Linked DNA regions of Homo sapiens. The protein of the gene in region 2 interacts with the protein of the main gene of each other region in a biochemical or structural test. Each region holds a gene or a part of one and is shown on either strand. Other genes may lie near its edges.

Region 1 (7,036 bases), 6.2 Mb from region 2:
CCACAAGGCTTCTCTGATTATTGAATTGAAGAAGCATTATTGGGAGGGGGAAAAAAAAACATGCTTAGGATGTTCTACTGTTTTAAAAAGCATTTTCATATATATCAGCTGGAAGATTCGTTGCTTTTTTTTCTTTTGTTTCGGTAGTTTGGTTAAATATTATACCAGTAGCCACTTCACCTCTTGTCCTAAGTCAGATTTGTCCAGTTCTTTACTTACCTTTCCTTTCAGTAAAGAAGGTAAAAGTTTTCCCACCCTTACTGCAAGATGCAGATGTTCTTTTCAAAAAGACGGATGTTGGCTGGGCGCAGTGGCTCGTGCCTGTATTCCCAGCACTTTAGGAGGCTGAGGCGGGCAGATCATTTAGGTCAGTAGTTCGAGACCAGCCTGGCCAACATGGTTAAATCTCGTCTCTACTAAAAATACAAAAAAATTAGCCGGGTGTGGTGGTGCGCGCACCTGTAATCCCAGCTTCCTGGGAGGCTGAGGCAGGAGAATCGCTTGAACCAGGGAGGCAGAAGTTGCAGTGAGCTGAGACTGCACCACTACACTCCATCCTGGGTGACAGAGGGAGGCTCGACCTCAAAAAAAAAAATACATAAAAAACAAAAAATAAATTAAAAAACACATATACGGCTGTGCACGGTGGCTCATGCCTGTATTCCCAGCACTTTGGAATGCCGAGGTGGGCAGATCACCTGAGGTCAGGAGTTCGAGACCAACCTGGCCAACATGTTGAAACCCCGTCTCTACTAAAAATACAAAAATTAGCCGGGTGTGGTGGCGTGGCGTCAGTAATCCCAGATACTCGGGAGGCTGAAGTGGGAGAATCGCTTGAGCCCGGGAGGTGGAGGTTGCAATGAGCTGATATCCCGCCACTGCACTCCAGCCTGGGCGACAGAGTGACCCCGTCTCAAAACAAAACCACATATACAATGTTCCTTAGTCACGTCTCATAAAAATGATACTTTGTACTGGTGAGGACTTTCTTTCTCTTATTTCTATCTTATATCATGTTATCTCTGCTTTGAAAAACATTGCAATCGACCTAAAATTGACTTTTTATTTGAGTTTCTTCATCTCTCCCACTGGTATGTGAAACACCATAAAGTTTCAAATTTGTGCTAACCCTTCCGTAAGAGTCTTCCTTTTTAAGTAATTTAACTGTCCTGTAACTCTCTGCCTTTATACCAAATGTGCCTTTTTTTAACTTTCAAAGGAACCAATTTGGAGTTGAAAATGAATGAATCTAGAGTTGAAATATCAATTGCAAGCCTTTTACTTTTTTTTTTTTTTTTAAGGAAAATATTTTTCTAAAAGTGTTTTCTTTTTCTTTTTCTTTTTTGGGGACTCTGTCGTGCCAGGTTGAGAAAGTGGCGACTTCTATAAGACATGGATAGATGCAAACATGTAGGGCGGTTACGGCTCGCCCAGGACCACTCCATCCTGAACCCTCAGAAGTGGTGCTGCTTAGAGTGTGCCACCACCGAGTCCGTGTGGGCCTGCCTCAAGTGCTCCCACGTGGCCTGCGGCCGCTATATTGAGGACCACGCCCTGAAACACTTTGAGGAGACGGGACACCCGCTAGCCATGGAAGTCCGGGATCTCTACGTGTTCTGTTACCTGTGCAAGGACTACGTGCTCAATGATAACCCAGAGGGGGACCTGAAGCTGCTAAGAAGCTCCCTCCTGGCGGTCCGGGGCCAGAAACAGGACACGCCGGTGAGACGTGGGCGGACGCTGCGGTCCATGGCTTCGGGTGAGGACGTGGTCCTGCCGCAGCGCGCTCCTCAGGGACAGCCGCAGATGCTCACGGCTCTGTGGTACCGGCGTCAGCGCCTGCTGGCCAGGACGCTGCGGCTGTGGTTCGAGAAGAGCTCCCGGGGCCAGGCGAAGCTGGAGCAGCGGCGGCAGGAGGAGGCCCTGGAGCGCAAGAAGGAGGAGGCGCGGAGGCGGCGGCGCGAGGTGAAACGGCGGCTGCTGGAGGAGCTGGCCAGCACCCCTCCGCGCAAGAGTGCACGGCTGCTCCTGCACACGCCCCGCGACGCGGGCCCGGCTGCCTCGCGCCCCGCCGCCCTCCCTACCTCACGCAGAGTGCCCGCCGCCACACTCAAGCTGCGTCGCCAGCCGGCCATGGCCCCAGGCGTCACGGGCCTGCGCAACCTGGGCAACACCTGCTACATGAACTCCATCCTCCAGGTGCTCAGCCACCTCCAGAAGTTCCGAGAATGTTTCCTCAACCTTGACCCTTCCAAAACGGAACATCTGTTTCCCAAAGCCACCAACGGGAAGACTCAGCTTTCTGGCAAGCCAACCAACAGCTCGGCCACGGAGCTGTCCTTGAGAAATGACAGGGCCGAGGCATGCGAGCGGGAGGGCTTCTGCTGGAACGGCAGGGCCTCCATTAGTCGGAGTCTGGAGCTCATCCAGAACAAGGAGCCGAGTTCAAAGCACATTTCCCTCTGCCGTGAACTGCACACCCTCTTCCGAGTCATGTGGTCCGGGAAGTGGGCCCTAGTGTCGCCCTTCGCCATGCTCCACTCAGTGTGGAGCCTGATCCCTGCCTTCCGCGGCTACGACCAACAGGACGCGCAGGAATTTCTCTGCGAGCTGCTGCACAAGGTGCAGCAGGAACTCGAGTCTGAGGGCACCACACGCCGGATCCTCATCCCCTTCTCCCAGAGGAAGCTCACCAAACAGGTCTTAAAGGTGGTGAATACCATATTTCATGGGCAGCTGCTCAGTCAGGTATGTGTGTGCCTACCATGACAATGAGAGGCTTGTATGTTAGCTTGGGCTTCCTGTGAGTGCCTTCCCCGGGTTATTGGGCTAATAAGAGTAGCCCACATTTGCTGTGATTATGCAATTTGGAGGGTGGCCATTATACCTTTCATTCTGCTGTACATTATGATGGCCTTTTGGGGAAACTTGCCTAGTGTCTTTCCGGCCAGATTTTTAGTTTAACTTGCCACATCGCTTAATTTTCAGTGAATATCTTTAATTGTTATTGAAGATAGGGGTAATATAATATTCTCATTGTTATAATTAAGTACCCATTGTTGGTGTGCCATCCTTTGATCAATTTGAGGGAACAGAGTTTGCTTGTAACCCTGGTTCCATAATAGTTTGAAAGAGCAATCTCCCTTCTTTACATACAGGGAAGGTAGGTAGCTGGGAGCATGCTAAAGGCCAGTGCAAGCCTCCTTCCTGTTCCCCATTACCTTTTATTTCCTGCATCTTTAGCCATGTAACCTAAGCAAAAATGCTTAGACAGGGCCTTGCGAGAATATGCAGAAAGAGTATTTCTATAGTTAAAAAAAGGCAGGTGTGCCGGGCACGGTGGCTCATGCCTGTAATCCCAGCACTTCAGGAGGCCAAGGTGGGTGGATCACCTGAGGTCAGGAGTTAGAGACCAGCCTGGCCAACATGGTGAAACCCTGTCTCTACTAAAAATACAAAATTAGCCGGGCGTGGTGGCGCATGCCTGTAATCCCAGCTACTTGGGAGGCTGAGGCAGGAGAATTGCTTAAGCCCAGGAGGCGGAGGTTGCGGTGAGCCGAGATTGTGCCATTGGCACTACAGCCTGGGTGACAGATGGAGACTGTCTCAAAAAAAACCAAAAAACAAACAAAAAAACGTGGTGGGGGGTGGGTTGGTGAGCAACTTAAGAGTTTCAGGTAAAACCTCTACACTATGTGTCTTGGTTTTTAGGGCTTTGAAAGAATGATGAATGGGATGGAAAGGGAAAGTTTAATTAGGCTTTTGTTTTTGAGCATGTAAAAGGGGGAGTATTTATCAGCACTTCTTCTGTCTCCCCTCCCCTTAGGAAGAAAGGTGCACCTGGGAAGGTTATAGTGGGAATGGAGGTCTAATCACAGCACTTTGAGGCTCTGCAGACAGAGGGGTTCAGTGTAGGGCTTCTGCAAGTAACAAAGGCAAAAAGAGAGGCATGCTGGGCCCCATGGAAGGTCTGAAGTCAAGAGGAGGAATGCCAGGGTGAGGGAAGCAGGCAGGGACCTGCAAATCTGTGTCAGACTGATCCCTTGAGTGACTGCATGATAACTTGCAGTCTGTACTACTGTACTATTGAATGGTAGAGCATATTTTGGGAGAGGTGAAAAGGGGGGTTAGTATAGTCTCTATGCAGTATGGTTTTTAAATTCCAGCTAGCATCCCATAGTTAGAAATGTACATCAGAAATAATATACTCTAATTCTTTTAAAGTTATGTTTATTATTTTAATATTACTATTTTTTGAAAATTATACACTTAGTTTTGATAAAGTGTGTCTTTTATGAAGCAAGTAAAACTGTACACAGGAAGCATGGAAGTTATATAATCTGTAAATCAATCTTTTCATTCTAGGTCACATGTATATCATGCAATTACAAATCCAATACCATTGAGCCCTTTTGGGACCTATCCCTGGAATTCCCTGAACGCTATCACTGCATAGAAAAGGGGTTTGTCCCTTTGAATCAAACAGAGTGCTTGCTCACTGAGATGCTGGCCAAATTCACAGAGACAGAGGCCCTGGAAGGGAGAATCTACGCTTGTGACCAGTGTAACAGTGAGTGCTGTGTGGAGGAGGGGGCGTAGTGGGGAAGAATAATTGGAATATCAGTTTAAGGTGCTGCTTTGTCCTCTTTAGTCAAAAGTAACACTAATGATATTGAATGGTTCTAAAGCATCTTTTAAAGATCTTTTTCTCCCATTTTTCTAAAAACAAAAAACATGGACTTGTTTTAATTATGTATTAAAAAACAAAACAAGGCTGGGCGTTGTGGCTCACGCCTGTAATCCCAGCATTTTGGGAGGCCAAGGCGGACAGATCACTTGAGGTCAGGAGTTTGAGACCAGCCTGACCAACATGGTGAAACCCTGTCTCTACTAAAAATACAAAAATTAGCTGGGCATAGTGGCAGATGCCTGTAATCCCAGCTACTCGGGAGGCTGAGGCAGGAGAATCGGTTGAACCCAGGAAGCGGAGGGTGCAGTGAGCCAAGATTGCGCCATTGCACTCCAGCCTGGGCAACAGAGCAAGACTCCGTTTCAAACAACAACAACAACAACAACAAATGAAACAAAGACCTAGGAGTTGATTGACCTCCTGATTGACATTAGTTGTCATCTTGGAAGGGATTTTAAAGTTGTGGCTCCTGAAATGGGGACTCTGAGAATGTTAGTACTTAGCTTCTTAGTGCTGTGGGGCTGCTGCTTAAATTCATGAATGTAGAGTCTGACAGTTCTTACTTAATCTAAACCCAGATGGTATAGCCTTTCTGAAGGGTGCGATATCAGAAAAGCAAGCTTTTGTACTGAACTGGTAGACTTAATGTCTGTCAAAAGTGATGCTAAAGATTGGTACAGTGGAACCAAGAAAGCAAGTCTTAAGGTGCATTGCTCAGTGGCAGCTTCATGAAATATTTTCTGCATTTTGTTTTTATTGTTCACATGCCTGAAAAGTTCACATTTCAGAGAGGGTCATACGGAAGTATTTCTGTGTTGTCTGTAATTTTAAAATGGAACTCTTACATATGGTTACAGAGGCATGTTATCAGGGTCCTTCCATCTTGCCACACTAACACTTAATGCTTCTGCTAATCCAGTATGGACAGAGGAAATGCAGAACAAATATGTGGATGCTTATGTTTGGGGTTTGTGGCATATATAGATTTGGAAACTAAAAGTATAAAGTTAATGGACTGTGCAGAGACCTAGAAATCAATTTTCAGTCACATAATAGTTTAGATTACCAGTTTTGAAGAAAAAAAAAATCTTAGGCCAGGTGCAGTGGCTCACGCCTGTAATCCCAGGACTTTGGGAGACCCCAAGGTGGGCGCCACTGCACTCCAGCCTGGGTGACAGAGCGAGATGCTGTCTCAAAAAAAAAAAATAAATAAAAAATAAATAAATAAATAAATAAATAAATAAATAAATAAATAAAATAAAATAAAATAAAATAAAAAATAAAATAAAATAAAATAAAATAAATTGTGGGAAACCTGTTCCGCTCTTTGAAGAATCAGAACAAAAATCAAAAGTCAGGCTTGAGGCCAGGTGTAGTGGCTCATACCTGTAATCCCAACACTTTGGGAGGCCAAGGCAGGAGGATTGCCTGAAGCCAGGAGTTTGAGACCAGCCTGGTGGCATAGCAAGACCTCTTTTAGGGAAAATAAAAACAAAAACAAAAACCACAAAGTTATGCTCGATATCATTTTGCCATTTCAAAACAAAATTTGAAATTTTATACCTGGTTAACTATAGACTCACCTATCCTGTTCCATTTTGAGATACAGAGTCAGGTGAATCAAATTGTTTCATTAGAGTAATATTTAAAAAAAAAAAAACAGTGATTCCTGAAGCCTTTTACTTGTAAGGAACAAAAGAATATTAACAGCTTTAACTCCATCATTTTTGGATATGATAGATTAGGCAAGAAATAACTTTTGTTTATCTTTACAAGAAAGGATTGTTCTTTGGTTGTCAGATATGCCAATTTATCAGGATTTCTCTAGGCAAGTACAAATAATGGCAGAGAAGGAAACCTATGGTGAGGGGATGAGATGCATTGATCTGTTGCCTGTGAAGTTTCAAAACTGTCAGTCTTCTACCTGTCTTCCTGGCCAGCTTAATGAAATGGAGACAGAACTGATCAATCTCAGTTGAATCAGTAATTTCTTTTTCTTTGTGAATTTCATTTTAGGGAAACAAAGCCTGACTCTATATTGTCTTCATCTTAGCTCACATACTCCCTCTGCTGAAGGTGGCAGTCACTGCCAGGATTCCTAGCCAGAGCTGCAGTAATTTTCAAAAAAATGGTGAATAGGAATATAAAATAAGGCCAAGCCCCTCTGTGAATTCCATTTCTGTTCATGCCCCCACGTATTGTGACGACTACACCCTGGTAAAAGCTTCTCCTATGGCACACTCATTCTGATGCAGTCTATTATGAGAAGTTACACCTCCACATCCTATTGTCACAGAAAGCTCTGTGATACATCATCTGGCTGTGATTTGCTACCTTTCATGAGTA
Region 2 (7,000 bases):
ACATCACTTCAGTGGTATTTTCAAAAAATGCATAACCTCAATCTAAAAACATCCCAGAAACCCAAATTGAGGGATATTCTACAAAACGGTCAGTTGTATTCAAAATAGTAGAGTAGGCTGGGTGCGGTGGCTCATGCCTGTAATCCCAGCATTTTGGGAGGCTGAGGCGGGTGTATCACCCAAGGTCAGGAGCTTGAGGACCAGCCTGACCAACATGTTAGAAACCCTGTCTCTAATAAAAATACAAAAATTAGTCGGGCATGGTGGCGTGCGCCTATAGTCCCAGCTACTTGGGAGGCTGAGACAGGAGAATTGCTTGAACCCAGGAGGTGGAGGTTGCAGTGAGCTGCGATAGCATCACTACACTCTAGCCTGGATGACAGAGCAAGACTCCATCTCAAAAAAAAAAAAAAAAAAAAAAAAAGTAAATACAATGCTGGATCCTGAGTTTGATCTTAGACCAGAAAACGACAGTAGTGTAGTAACTGGTGAAATTCAAATAAGATCTGGAAAACAGTTACTGGTACTACATCAATGTTAACTTCCTGATTTTGATAAATGTACTGTGATTAGGTAAGATGTTAACATTTAGAGGAAGCTGTGTAAAGCATATAAGGGAACGCGCTATACTAGTTTTGCAACTTTTCTGTAATTCTAAAATTATTTCAAAACAAAAAGTTAAAAAAAAATTGACTCCCATCGCAAGTATTACCAAAAGCAAGATCTGATTTAATTTAGTCTGCTCTAAAGTCATCTCCACAGCGGTAATTTTGTGATATTGTCTATAATTGGGAAAAGTTTTTCCTCTTAGTTGACAAAACCCTCCAGTTTAAAAATATATATTATAAATTACTGAATCTAGGGTGTGCCTGTATCCATAGGAGTAAACCTCTACCTTTGTACATACATTTGAAATTTTTCATAAGAAAAATTTAAAATACACATTATAGACAAGCTTAAGTGCTTACTAATATAGTGAAGATGATTTTCTATCATTCCTACAACTTTTGTAAATATTTAGAATTCTATGATGGAGTTTTAGGGCTAGTAGGACCTTAAAAATCAAGAGGTTCAAGCTTGCCTCACTGCATAGGAAGGAAGCTAACGCCCAGAGGTGAAGTCTAGTTGAAGCCAGCCTGAGGCCAGGGCTGAGGCTGGAACCCTATCTCCCAACTCCTAGTCTGGAGCTATTTCCCTGGTATTCTACATTTAAAGCTCTTCATGTATTCAAAAACTTATCCCAAATGGCAATTTGGGATAAATAATATTTGTAACTGCTTCCCAAAACAACAGAATTTAAACTGATTTGCCAGACTCGTAGAAATGAAATATGGGTTGAAAATAGTATATACTTTAAAAGAAAGAAACTCAGCTATTCTTGTTTTCTGTTTAAATGAACTCTTTACTTTTTTTTTTTAAGGAGACAAGGTCTCACTATGGTACCTAGGCTAGAGTGCACTGGCTATTCACTGGTGTAACCATAGCACGCTATAGCCTCGAACTCCTGGCCTCTAGTGATCCTCCTATCTCAGCCTCCCAAGTAGCTGGGACTACAGGTGCACACCATTACACCTGGCTTTTGAAATAATTATTTTAAACAGACCTTTTATAATAATAGTTCATGTTCCCATCCTTGTTGAATGATTTGATTTTTGTTCTTAATGGAAGTATTTCTCTGTTTTCTCACAACTCTCTTTTGAAGGATTTCAGCTCACTAATGACACTTCTCAAGCACTTATCCATGCAGAAAGCCTTTACTGAACACCAAATGTGTGTCACGCACTGCAGGAAATGCTGAACACAAAAGGATGAAGAAAGATTCTGGTCCTCAAGCACTCAAAGTATACTGGGAGAAATGGGCAAATACTGATTACAATGTAAAGTGACAAGTAGTATACACAGTGGTACATATAATTTGCTCCGGGAGGGAAGAAGAGTTAGCTATCTCAGTCCTCAGAGCTGCCCCTACTCCCACTTAGCAAATGAAGAAACGGAATAGCTTCAGGTTACTCAATAAACACCAAAGCAGGACTTGAACCTAGGTCTCCTGATATGGAATAGAATGAACATTATTATCCAATATTGATCTAAATGATGAACTATTTTTTAATCTTGATGACAGCTGATGAGATGTATTTGAGTCCTAAAAGGGATTATAATCTACTGCTCTGTTTAGTAACTCTGTAACCCTGGGCAATTTATTTAACATCTCTGAATTAACTTTTCTCATCTGGGGACAAGAAATTTTACCTCTTAAGGTTGTGAGAAATAAATGAACAAACATATCAGGCAACTAATATAGTTGTTGGCACACCAGAGAGTCCACAGATTGAGAATTTCTTGTGGATGGAATTACTTTGTATTCATTTTTGAGTTTGTAGAGGCTGGTAGCATGCCTGACACGTAGATGTTGAATTAATATTTACTAAATAAAATTATTAAATAAATGTTGAACCTGAAACTATTTTTTTTTTGGACAGAATCTTGCTGTTGTCCAGGCTGAAGCACAATGGCACAATCACGGCTCTCTGCTGTAGCATTCATCTCCAGAGCTCAAGTGATTCTTCCACCTCAGCCTCCCAAGTAGCTGGGACTACAGGGACGTGACACCACACTTGACTAATTCTCTTGATGCTTTTTAGTAGAGATGGGGCCTCACTATGCTGTCCTGGCTGGTCTCGAATTCCTAAGCTCAAGAGATCCTCCTGCCTCGGCCTCCCAAAGTGCTGGAATTACAGGCATGAGCCACTGTGCCCAGCTAAGACTATCTTTGAGATATATTCAATACTTTTTTTTTGAGACAGAGTCTTGCTTTGTCATCCAGGCTGGAGTGCAGTAGCACCATCTCGACTCACTGCAACCCCTGCCTCCCGGGTTCAAGTGATTCTCATGCCTCAGCCTCCCGAGTAGCTGGGAATACAGGCGTGCACCACCACACCTGGCTAGTTTTTTGTATTTTTAGTAGAGATGGGGTTTCGCCATGCTGGCCAGGCTGGTCTCAAACTCCTGAGCTCAGGCAATCCACCCGCCTCGACCTCCCAAAGTGCTGGGATTACAGGCGTGAGTCACTGCGCACAGCCGATATATTCATTTCTACAAACATTTTTTTTTAAGTCTCCATTTCGTCCACATAAATGGCCCAACTTTTAAGGACTAGTTCCCTCTTACTTTAATACTTACTTTCTACTGTTGCTCCTTCGTTTGGATTTGAATATCCCTCTCCTTTCCGTTTGGTTCTCCGGATAATGCCTCCATCTTCAAATAAATCCTCTCCTTTGAAATCAAGGAGCTCAATCTAGAAAGAAAAAAGGAATTCAGCTGAGAAAAGACCAAATAAAGCCAACTGAACATATGTGAAGGCAAGGGCAACCAATTATTTCATTTTACAAAATAAAGCTGTTTTAAAATATATACATTCATTTATGCATCTTAATTATTGGAAAAGTAGCAAAAAAAAAAAAACCCACTATACTTTTCCATACTTGGAAAGAATTTCATGTAATGCTAATGTCTAGAACTATATCCTAAGGGACTGCAGTGCAAAGATAGGAAATACTAGGAAAACTACCCTGTGGGCAAAAAGCCAGAGCTACAAGGTGCTGGTGTAGAACTATTTTGTTTGAGGCCACAACTTTCCCATCCTGGGTTTATGGAGTTCCCTTCTCAAAATGTAAGAATAAATCTCATGGATGTGACCTACGACTGATTAAAGGTGTATTTTACCTAGCTGGGGTGGTTCTTAAAAATCAAGTTTTGCCAAATATATGTAATTCAACATAGGATGAATAATGTTTTATCACCACCAACGGCTTCTAGAGAAGTGAGATCTGTGACACATAAATTTTTATAATATGTAAATACCCCGCAACGTGACATAGGCATATTTCAACATTTATCGCCAACATTTCCATCCTGTACTCTGGTCAATTTTGAGTATGTCACACTCACACCATGGACCAGAATCTTTATTTCTAAGTGTAGCGTCTTTTGTTTATTTGGATATGACCTTTTTGTGCTAGAAACACGTTTCTAAGAAAGCACTGGCACGCGCACCCTTGGGTTTGTGGGAAACAATTCAAGAAGCCATGCTCCAAAATAAGTAAGTTGGATCTGATTCTCTATAGCAAGCTTAGCTCCTTTTCCCACTGCCTGTTGCTTCAAAGCCATTCCTATTGTAGAGCAGATGCTGACAAGGCAACATCACACACATACTTGCCTCAAAAAAGAGAGTTGCATTCGAGGGAATTTTAGGGAGACTGCCAGCCGAGCCATATGCATATTCTGGTTTGCACAGTAAATGGCATATCTCTCCTTTCTTCATGGTAGCCACCCCAATGTCCCATGCCTTGATGACTTGGCCTAAGGGAAAGGAAAAGGTAGTTGAAAGCTATAAGCCCTATTTAAAAAGATTTAACTTTCATAAAACCAAAGTTCTAATTTCCAGTTTTTCATACTACATACTCAGCTAGAAAGTATGGGCTACAAGATGACAGAGTGCTACATACAAATAAATAAATTATTTTTTTTGAAGGCTATCACAAAAGATTCCCTGTTGATCGGCCCAGCACTTTGGGAGGCTGAGGTGGGAGGACTGCTTGAGTCCAGGAATTTGACACCAGCCTGGGCAACACAGCAAGACCTCATCTCTAAAAAAAAAAAAAAAACACCCCAAAGAACCAAAGAACACAGCTGGGTATGGTGCACACCTGTAGTCCCAGCTACTCCGGAGGCTGTGGTGGGAGGACAGCTTAAGCCTGGGAGCCCAGGAGATTGAGGCTTCAGTGAGTCATGATTATGCCACTGCACTCTAGCCTGGGTGACAGAGTGAGACCCTGTCTCAAAAAGGATTCCCTGCTGAAAGGGATGAAAGTAATATAAATTCCTAAACTACTCAAAAATTAAGTCTTTGAAAACTGGTGGTAACATTATCCATGAAATATGGCTATGTTGCAATTGTTGCCTAATTTATCATTTCAACTATAATAAGCGCAAATTTTCTAGGCAGAGATAGAACAAAAATAGTATTGAAAAATAGAGTGTGTCCTAAGGAAGCTTATAATTTAGTTGGGTAGACAAAAAAAACAACAAAACAAGAAGTAACCAGAACAGGATAAATTGCATAAAAGGGTCCATGAAACACATTTCTTCTCAAAATTTAGAATCAGAAAAATGTTCCTTTAAACAAAAACATATGTGTCTTTTTGTCAAACCACAACTACAGAACTTAAAATATTTTATTTTTTGCCTACTTCCAGGAAACTAAGTTAAATTTACTGCTCAATTGTAGAACTATATTAGGCTATATAATTGTAATCTCAATGTTTATAGTTCCTATGATGTGCATCATTATCTTACTGTAAGCAGTATCAAGTCCTTTCGGAAACAATAGAAAATTTAGGCCATTTAAAAGGCTAAATTACATTTTGGTGGGGCATGGTGGCTCACGCCTGTAATCCCAGAACTTTGGGAGGCCAAGACAGGCGGATCACTTGAGGCCAGGAATTCAAGCCTGGCCAACATGGTGAAACCCCGTCTCTACTAAAAATACAAAAATTAGCCAGGCATGGTAGTGCGTGCCTGTAATCCCAGCTACTTAGGAGGCTGAGGCAGGAGAATTGCTTGAACCTGGGAGGCGGAGGTTGCAGTGAGTAGAGATCATGCCACTGCACTCCAGCCTGGGCGACACAGCAAGACTCTGTCTCCAAAAAAAAAAAAAAAAAGGCTAAATGACAAATGAGGTACTCTGTCAATCAGAAATATTAAGTATCTGGGGGCTGGGCACGTTGGCTCGCGCCTGTAATCCCAGCTGTAATCCCAGCACTTTGGGAGGCCAAGGCGGGCAGATCCCTTGAGCTTAGGAGTTTGAGACCAGCCCAGGCAACATGGTGAAACCCCATCTCCACAAAAAAATATATTTAAAAAATGAGCCAGGCGTGGTGGTGCTTGCCAGCTACTCAGCAGGCTGAGGAGAGAGGACTACTTGAGTCCAGGAGGTCAAGGCTGCAGTGAGCTGAGATCATGCCACTGCACTCCAGCCTGGGCAGCAGAGTGGAGACCCTGTCCTGTCTCAAAAAACAAAAACAAAAATGTAAGTATTCAAAAGTAGGATCAGATAAGAGATGAACCCCAGAGGAAGTGAATTTGAAGTGAGCTGGTGGTAGGATATTAGGACAAGGGAAACCCTACATAACAGTATGTAAGCAGGGATAGATAAACCATTTTTTATTCATGACTTTAGCTTAATCTTCATTAAATATTACAACTTTTCAAAATGTCAGCTACATTTATTTCAGTTAAAAATATATGTAAGTGGCCAGGAATAGTGGCTCATACCTCTCATCTCAGCATTTTGGAAGGCCAAAGCAGGAGCATCCACTTGAGCCCAAGAGTTTTAAGACCGGCCAGGGCAACATAGTGAAACTCCATCTCTACAAAAATTTAAAAAATTAGTGCGGCATGGTGGCATATGCTTGTAGCTCCAGCTACTTTGGAGGTTAAGACAGGAGAAGAGCTTGAGCCTAGGAGTAAGAGGCTACAGTGAGCAATGATTATGTCACTGCACTCCAGACTAGGTGACAGAGCGAGACCCTGTCTCTTAAAAAAAAAAAAAAATCAAGTAATACATGCCTATTATTAAAACACCCATGAAAGAGATGGAAAGTGAAAGCTGAAAGGCCATCCATCTGCTCCTTATAAGTAACTGTTACGTTTCTTTGGTATCCTACTGTGTGCTGTCACTTTTTAAAAAAATTTAAAATACAAATGACAGCAAACTAGACATTCAGTTCTAAACTACTTTTTCATTTATTATATATCTTCATCCTCTTTCTCCATCAGTAGAAAGGAGGATGTACATTTTAGAGGTCAAAAATGCAGCATACTCTAACTTCAGAATACCTGGATTTGAATACCAAGTTTGCCCTTTACTATCTGTGTAAACTTGTGCAAGTTATTTAATCTCTGTGCTTAGTCTCCTCACCTGCAAAATGTAAATAATAAC
Region 3 (7,036 bases), on a different chromosome or scaffold from region 2:
GGGCCAAGGATTGGAAACAGGCAACTTACCTCTGAATTACACTATTCCAGGGTCTCATTATTCCAGGGTTTTATTACATTCATTGAGCACTGTTCTGGGCTCTGGATTATACCAGAGAACGATGGTAGACAAAAACATCTGTCCTCAGGGATCTTTCGTGTTAGTGGAGTGAGGATGTGAGGAGCACTAAGAGCCATGGAGAAAAATAAAGCAAGAGAAGTGGATCGGGACCTGGGAGCACGGAGGCAAGGGAGGAGGTGACAGTTGTCCATAGAGTGATCTGGGAAAGCCTCTTGAGAGGTGACATTCAAAGAGGCCCCTGAGAGGGGTACGGGAGTGAATCATGGGGCTATTTGGAGAAAGACCATTCCAGAAAGGAGGACAGCAATTACACAGGCCTTGAGGTAGGAGAGTACCAGGGACTAATAGCCAGGAACCAGTGGTGCCTCTGAGAGTGAGGGAGGGGGAGAGTCATACACGAGGCTGGAGGAGGCAGGCGTCAAGGGCTACTGGGTGATAGAGGGTCTAGCAGGGCCATGGTGAGGACTTTGGCTCTGGGTGAACAAGAATGGCATGATCTGACCTCTGTTTTTTTGTTTCATTTTGTTTTAACTTTTTTTGAGTCAGAGTCTCGCTCTGCCGCCCAGGCTAGAGTGCAGTGGCATGATCTCGGCTTACTGCAACCTCCGCCTCCCAGGTTCAAGTGATTCCCCTGCCTCAGCCTCCCGAGTAGCTGGAACTACGGGCATGCGCCACCACACCCAGCTAATTTTTGTATTTTTAGTAGAGATGGGGTTTCACCATGTTGCCCAGGCTAGTCTCTAATTCCTGGGCTCAAAGCGATTTGCCTGCCTCTGCCTCCCAAAGTGCCGGGATTACAGGCATGAGCCACCATGCCCAGCCCTGACCTCTGTTTTAATAAGGCCACTCTGGCTGCTGTGCTGCAAATAGACTTCAGGGAGCAAGGACAGAAGCTGGGAGGCCAGAGAGCAGGCTCTTGCCATAATCCAGATCCAAGCTTTTGGCCACTAGGACGGGGAGGTAGCAATGGAGGTGAGGCGCGGTCAGGTCCTGGAAGGTGAAGCCAGTGGGATTTCCCTATGGATTGGAAGTGGGGCGTGAAATAGAGGAGTCAGGGGTCACTCTGGGGATTTGGCCTGGAGCAGCTGGAAGATGGAGTGGCTGTTAACTTATGTAGGGAAGGCTGTGGGAAGAAGAGGTTTAGGAGACAAGGATAGCAGTTCATTTATTTATTTATTTATTTATTTATTTATTTATTTATTTATTTATTTAGAGATGTAGTCTCATTCTTTCGCCAGGCTGGAGTGCAGTGGCGCGATCTTGGCTCACTGCAACCTCCACCTCCCAGGCTCAAGCGATTCTCTTGCCTCAGCCTCCCGAGTAGCCAAGTAGCTGGGACTACAGGCATGTGCCACCATGCCTGGCTAATTTTTGTATTTGCTTTTTCAGTAGAGATGGGGTTTCACCACGTTAGCCAGGCTGGTCTCGAACTGACCTCAGGCAATCCACCCGCCTCGACCTCCCAGTGTTGGTATTATAGGCGTGAGCCACTGTGCCTGGCCCACTGGATCCTTATTACAACTGCCAGTGTCCCTCTTATATATATCAGGAAATAGAAGATTAGGGAGAGGTTAAATAATTTGCCTAGAGTGGCATGGCTAGCTCGAAGTGAGGCAGGGGTCAACCCCAGCCCTGACTCCAAACCCAGGGTCCTAGGCCTGAACTGCCCAGCCTTGCCCAGCCTGAGGCTCCCCTGACTGGGGATCCCGTCTCGGGGGCAGGAAGGAGATCCTGCAGGAATACCTGGAGATTAGCAGCCTGGTGCAGGATGAGGTGGTGGCCATTCACCGGGAGATGGCTGCAGCTGCTGCCCGCATCCAGCCTGAGGCTGAGTACCAAGGCTTCCTGCGACAGTATGGGTAAGCCCCGTCCTTGCTCCTGCTGGGCCCAGGGCTGCTGGCCTGTCCACTGACGGGGCGCTGTCCCCCACAGGTCCGCACCTGACGTCCCACCCTGTGTCACGTTCGATGAGTCACTGCTTGAGGAGGGTGAACCGCTGGAGCCTGGGGAGCTCCAGCTGAACGAGCTGACTGTGGAGAGCGTGCAGCACACGTGGGTGGTGGCTTTGCACCTGGGCTGCGGCGGGGCTCCCAGCAGACCACGAGTGTTTATGTAGGCAGGGCTAGGTCGTGGAGACTGTCCACACAGAGCTGTCACCAGGTGGCCGGGCTTGCTTGGCTCTACAGGGATGCACTGGACCTGGGTTGAGGGGGCAGGAGGGCTCGGTTCTAATGCTGCCCTTCTCTTGGGTGCAGGCTGACCTCAGTGACAGATGAGCTGGCTGTGGCCACCGAGATGGTGTTCAGGCGGCAGGAGATGGTTACGCAGCTGCAACAGGAGCTCCGGAATGAAGAGGAGAACACCCACCCCCGGGAGCGGTGAGTGGGCCCCTGCCTGCAGCAGCCTCCTGGGCCTCCCTCCCTCCTACCTACCCTAACTGCTGCTGGCTACCCGCCGCAGACCGAGCCCTTATTCTCATCCACCCTCCCACCCGCCCCTGCCTGCAGGGTGCAGCTGCTGGGCAAGAGGCAAGTGCTGCAAGAAGCACTGCAGGGGCTGCAGGTAGCGCTGTGCAGCCAGGCCAAGCTGCAGGCCCAGCAGGAGTTGCTGCAGACCAAGCTGGAGCACCTGGGCCCCGGCGAGCCCCCGCCTGTGCTGCTCCTGCAGGATGACCGCCACTCCACGTCGTCCTCGGTGAGCTGCCCCATCCGCGGCCGCTGCCCGCCACCGGCCTGCCCACCTGGGGCTGCGCTCCTCATTTTCGCCCTCCCCCTCCCTAAGCCTGGCCACCCGCTGACGTCTGTCCCTGGCCTCAGGAGCAGGAGCGAGAGGGGGGAAGGACACCCACGCTGGAGATCCTTAAGAGCCACATCTCAGGAATCTTCCGCCCCAAGTTCTCGGTGAGTGGCGCCCAGCCTGGGCCCCCCTACTGTTGTGTTTCGAGTTTAATCACTGGGATGTCCTAGAGAGGAGGCTCTGCCCAGGCTGCTTGTATTGGGAAGTTCCTCTCTTCCCTGGGATTCCAGGCTGCAGATGTCCCCAGACCCTGCCCCTGTGACCCCTCCCTTTCCATCGCCCCAGTGTGCTAAAGGGACCAGCAACCTCGACTATTCCATGGCTCTCCCTGCTTCAGGAGCGGGTTGGGGGCCTGTGGCCTGGAGGAGGAGGCACCAGCTTGGTTTGGGGTCTTCCTGCCTGGGCTTCCCTTCCCAGCTCTGCCCAGCGTGAGCCTGGGCCAGTCCAGTGCCCACTCCAGGGGCCTGTGGATGGCTCTGCATGCCACTCCATGGTTGTAAGGGCTGAGGGCATATAGGGGGGAGAGAGAGACCCCCGGCTGCCCCCACGGCCTCTTCAACAAGGTGGTTAAGTGACTCCTCCTCGATCCTCCCTTGCCCAGCTCCCTCCACCGCTGCAGCTCATTCCGGAGGTGCAGAAGCCCCTGCATGAGCAGCTGTGGTACCACGGGGCCATCCCGAGGGCAGAGGTGGCTGAGCTGCTGGTGCACTCTGGGGACTTCCTGGTGCGGGAGAGCCAGGGCAAGCAGGAGTACGTGCTGTCGGTGCTGTGGGATGGTCTGCCCCGGCACTTCATCATCCAGTCCTTGGATGTGAGTGGGGCTGGGACCCGAGCCTTCCAGGCCTCACTCTTCCCCTCCCTTCCCTTCCCCAAGGGAAATGGCCTTTCAGGGTAGGGGGTAGCTGCCAGGTCTTGGATGCCTCCCTAGCAGGGCTGGCTGGAAGGGGCCACAGAGACCACCCTGTCCCTGCAACAAAATAGAGGCTTAAGTGTGAGTCCTCCCCTGGTGGGGCAGCAGGATGTCATGTGCCATCAGATGGCATCTTTTCTGGAGGTCTCTCTGCCCCTGGTCCTGGGCAGGCCCTTTCTCCCCTGCTGCTCTCCCTTTCCCCCTCCCAGGGCTCACGCCCCCTCAGAATGGAGGCTGCTGACCCCGGGTCCCCTGCCCTGCAGAACCTGTACCGACTGGAAGGGGAAGGCTTTCCTAGCATTCCTTTGCTCATCGACCACCTACTGAGCACCCAGCAGCCCCTCACCAAGAAGAGTGGTGTTGTCCTGCACAGGGCTGTGCCCAAGGTGAGCCTGCACCCAGCCTGGCCCATGCCACCTGTGGCAGGGCTTGGGGAGTGTGGGTCAGGCCCACCCAGCGTCTGAGCAGAAAGGGCTTTCCAGGCCCTCCGTCTACATACAAGATGCAGAGTGAGTGACCCTCAGGGCCAGCCTTGCTCTAGGTTTGGAATGTCAGGGCCACTCCTATGCCATGGGCTGTACACACCAGGTTGGTGCTTACCTGGTCAGGGCACCTGCCTGGACCCCGTAGTCATCTCAGTGTGCTCCCCACGTGGTCCCACCCCTGGTCACATATGGAGGCGCCAAAAAATGGAGGACACAGCCCTTCTAAGGGCCCAGCACCCCTTTTCTTCAGACTTCTGATCCCCTGTCTCCTCTCTTCCCCAGGACAAGTGGGTGCTGAACCATGAGGACCTGGTGTTGGGTGAGCAGATTGGACGGGTGAGTGCGCCTCTGCTGGCCTCCTTGTCGCTGGCGACTTCTCCTGAGTCGCGCCTGGGCCCCCTGCCCTACCACCCAGAGACCTCCCTGCCCCATCTGATTCCCCACTTGTACCCCGACTCCCTGCCCAGCCCCCACCACACACCATCCTCCAGGAAACGGGACAGTACCTACCCTGAAAACTCCCAGCAGACAGCTCTGCCAGCACCCTGACCTCATCACCCCCACCCAGGCCGCCCCCATCGAGCTCTTGTGTGCACGCAGGGAGACACCCTGTTACTGTAAGCCATAAGATACCTGTTTAGGGAAGAAGTCACTGTCCTAAAAATCAGAATGCTTTTCAAACCCAAGGGAGAGTGATTTTTGGATTTCCATGTCACTTCTCTCAGGAAGGGTGGCACATCGGAGGCAACTTTCCCTGCCTGCCCCATGTGCTCTCTAGGTTCCCCAGCGAGGGTCAAACTCCCAGAGAGCCTGGGTGAGGGGTCCGAACACGGGGGCCCCTCACCCAGGGGTAGGAAGCAGAATGGGTAGGAAGCGGAGAAGAGAACTGCGGGACTGGGAAGGCCGTGGTAGGAGCCCAAGACCGTTTCAGGGGAACTTTGGCGAAGTGTTCAGCGGACGCCTGCGAGCCGACAACACCCTGGTGGCGGTGAAGTCTTGTCGAGAGACGCTCCCACCTGACCTCAAGGCCAAGTTTCTACAGGAAGCGAGGTGGGTGATAAACTAATGATCACCACGGGTCCCGCATACACAGAGGTTACACTGCATGGCACAGTGTGAAGTGCTTGACCACCGTGGTGGTGTTTAGTCCTCGAGGCCCCCCATTGCGGGTAGTACCCCCTTATAGTGCCGAAGGGTAGAGGCTGCCCCAGGTCACACGTCCGGGTCTGCTGGCCTTGGAGGCCAAGCTCTTCTCCCATCATCCCTGGGGGGCCCTGGGGAGGCGGGCCTGGCCACGTAGATCCTGAGCAGCAGTGCCCTCCAGGATCCTGAAGCAGTACAGCCACCCCAACATCGTGCGTCTCATTGGTGTCTGCACCCAGAAGCAGCCCATCTACATCGTCATGGAGCTTGTGCAGGGTGAGCGCGGGGCGCTGAGCTCCAGGTAGGGCGCGCAGCCTGGTCAGGTGGCAGCCTTACCTCAGGAGGCTCAGCAGGGGTCCTCCCCACCTGCAGGGGGCGACTTCCTGACCTTCCTCCGCACGGAGGGGGCCCGCCTGCGGGTGAAGACTCTGCTGCAGATGGTGGGGGATGCAGCTGCTGGCATGGAGTACCTGGAGAGCAAGTGCTGCATCCACCGGTGAGTGGGCGGTGGCCACGGGCCCTGCCAACACCCCCGACCAGAGTCAAGAGGTACCTATACCCCTAGGGCCCCCCGCTGGACCATCAGGCATCAGCTCCAGAGGGGGAGTTGGCCTCTGTGGTAGACAGGGGTGCCCAGGGCCGGGAGCAGCTTTTGTCCTTGGCTTTCCTAGAGTGTTCAGCCAGGGCTGGGCAGGCGACTGTTGGCCAAATGAGCCCCTGCCCTGTCTCACCCAGGGACCTGGCTGCTCGGAACTGCCTGGTGACAGAGAAGAATGTCCTGAAGATCAGTGACTTTGGGATGTCCCGAGAGGAAGCCGATGGGGTCTATGCAGCCTCAGGGGGCCTCAGACAAGTCCCCGTGAAGTGGACCGCACCTGAGGCCCTTAACTACGGTACCTAGTCCCTGTCTACCCTGGACTCCATGGCCAGAGGCCAGGCCTGGGTCCTGCCGGCTGCCTCGCCCTGGCCCCAGGGAGGGTGCACTCACGCTGCCTCACCTCCTCGCCTCCTCTGCAGGCCGCTACTCCTCCGAAAGCGACGTGTGGAGCTTTGGCATCTTGCTCTGGGAGACCTTCAGCCTGGGGGCCTCCCCCTATCCCAACCTCAGCAATCAGCAGACACGGGAGTTTGTGGAGAAGGGTAAGCACCCTGTGATGACAGCAGCCTCAGGCTGCACCCTCTTCCAGATGCTCCAGCCGGACTCTTCTAACTCCCTTAATGCCAACCTTCCCACCAGGCAGAATAAGAATAACCTGGCCAGTTGCTCACGCCTGTCATCCCAGCACTTTGGGAGGCTGAGCTGGGTGGATCACTTGAGCCCAGGAGTTCAAGATCAGCTTGGACAACACAGTGAAACTCCATCTGTACAAAAAATACAAAAATAGACTGGGCACGGTGGCTCACACCTGTAATCCCAGCACTTTGGGAGGCCGAGGCAGGTGGATCACCTGTGGTCAGGAGTTTGAGACCAGCCAGACCAACATGGTGAAACCCCATCTCTACTAAAAATACAAAAATTAGCCAGGCATGGTGGCACGTGCCTGTAATCCCAGCTACTTGGGAGGCTGAGGTGGGAGAATTGCTTGAACCCAGGAGGCGGAGGCTGCAGTGAGCCGAGATT

What was found.
Region 1: the proteins of FKBP5 (region 2) and USP49 form a complex in vitro, tested with the Homo sapiens proteins (one study listed by BioGRID).
Region 3: the proteins of FKBP5 (region 2) and FES form a complex in vitro, tested with the Homo sapiens proteins (one study listed by BioGRID).

What each region holds. Positions count from the first base shown.
Region 1 is NC_000006.12:41,801,340-41,808,375, reverse strand, and holds part of USP49 (ubiquitin carboxyl-terminal hydrolase 49), read left to right. Parts: intron 1-1,364; 5' UTR 1,365-1,392; coding exon 1,393-2,748; intron 2,749-4,365; coding exon 4,366-4,570; intron 4,571-7,036. UniProt on the Homo sapiens protein: Deubiquitinase that plays a role in several cellular processes including transcriptional regulation, cell cycle progression or innate immunity.
Region 2 is NC_000006.12:35,615,916-35,622,915, forward strand, and holds part of FKBP5 (peptidyl-prolyl cis-trans isomerase FKBP5), read right to left. Parts: intron 4,360-7,000; coding exon 4,217-4,359; intron 3,296-4,216; coding exon 3,181-3,295; intron 1-3,180. UniProt on the Homo sapiens protein: Immunophilin protein with PPIase and co-chaperone activities. Component of unligated steroid receptors heterocomplexes through interaction with heat-shock protein 90 (HSP90).
Region 3 is NC_000015.10:90,887,504-90,894,539, forward strand, and holds part of FES (tyrosine-protein kinase Fes/Fps), read left to right. Parts: intron 1-1,802; coding exon 1,803-1,940; intron 1,941-2,013; coding exon 2,014-2,133; intron 2,134-2,336; coding exon 2,337-2,459; intron 2,460-2,588; coding exon 2,589-2,775; intron 2,776-2,862; coding exon of another isoform or gene 2,863-2,897; coding exon 2,898-2,981; intron 2,982-3,478; coding exon 3,479-3,688; intron 3,689-4,050; coding exon 4,051-4,173; intron 4,174-4,554; coding exon 4,555-4,608; intron 4,609-5,203; coding exon 5,204-5,322; intron 5,323-5,596; coding exon 5,597-5,691; intron 5,692-5,787; coding exon 5,788-5,911; intron 5,912-6,150; coding exon 6,151-6,308; intron 6,309-6,432; coding exon 6,433-6,555; intron 6,556-7,036. UniProt on the Homo sapiens protein: Tyrosine-protein kinase that acts downstream of cell surface receptors and plays a role in the regulation of the actin cytoskeleton, microtubule assembly, cell attachment and cell spreading.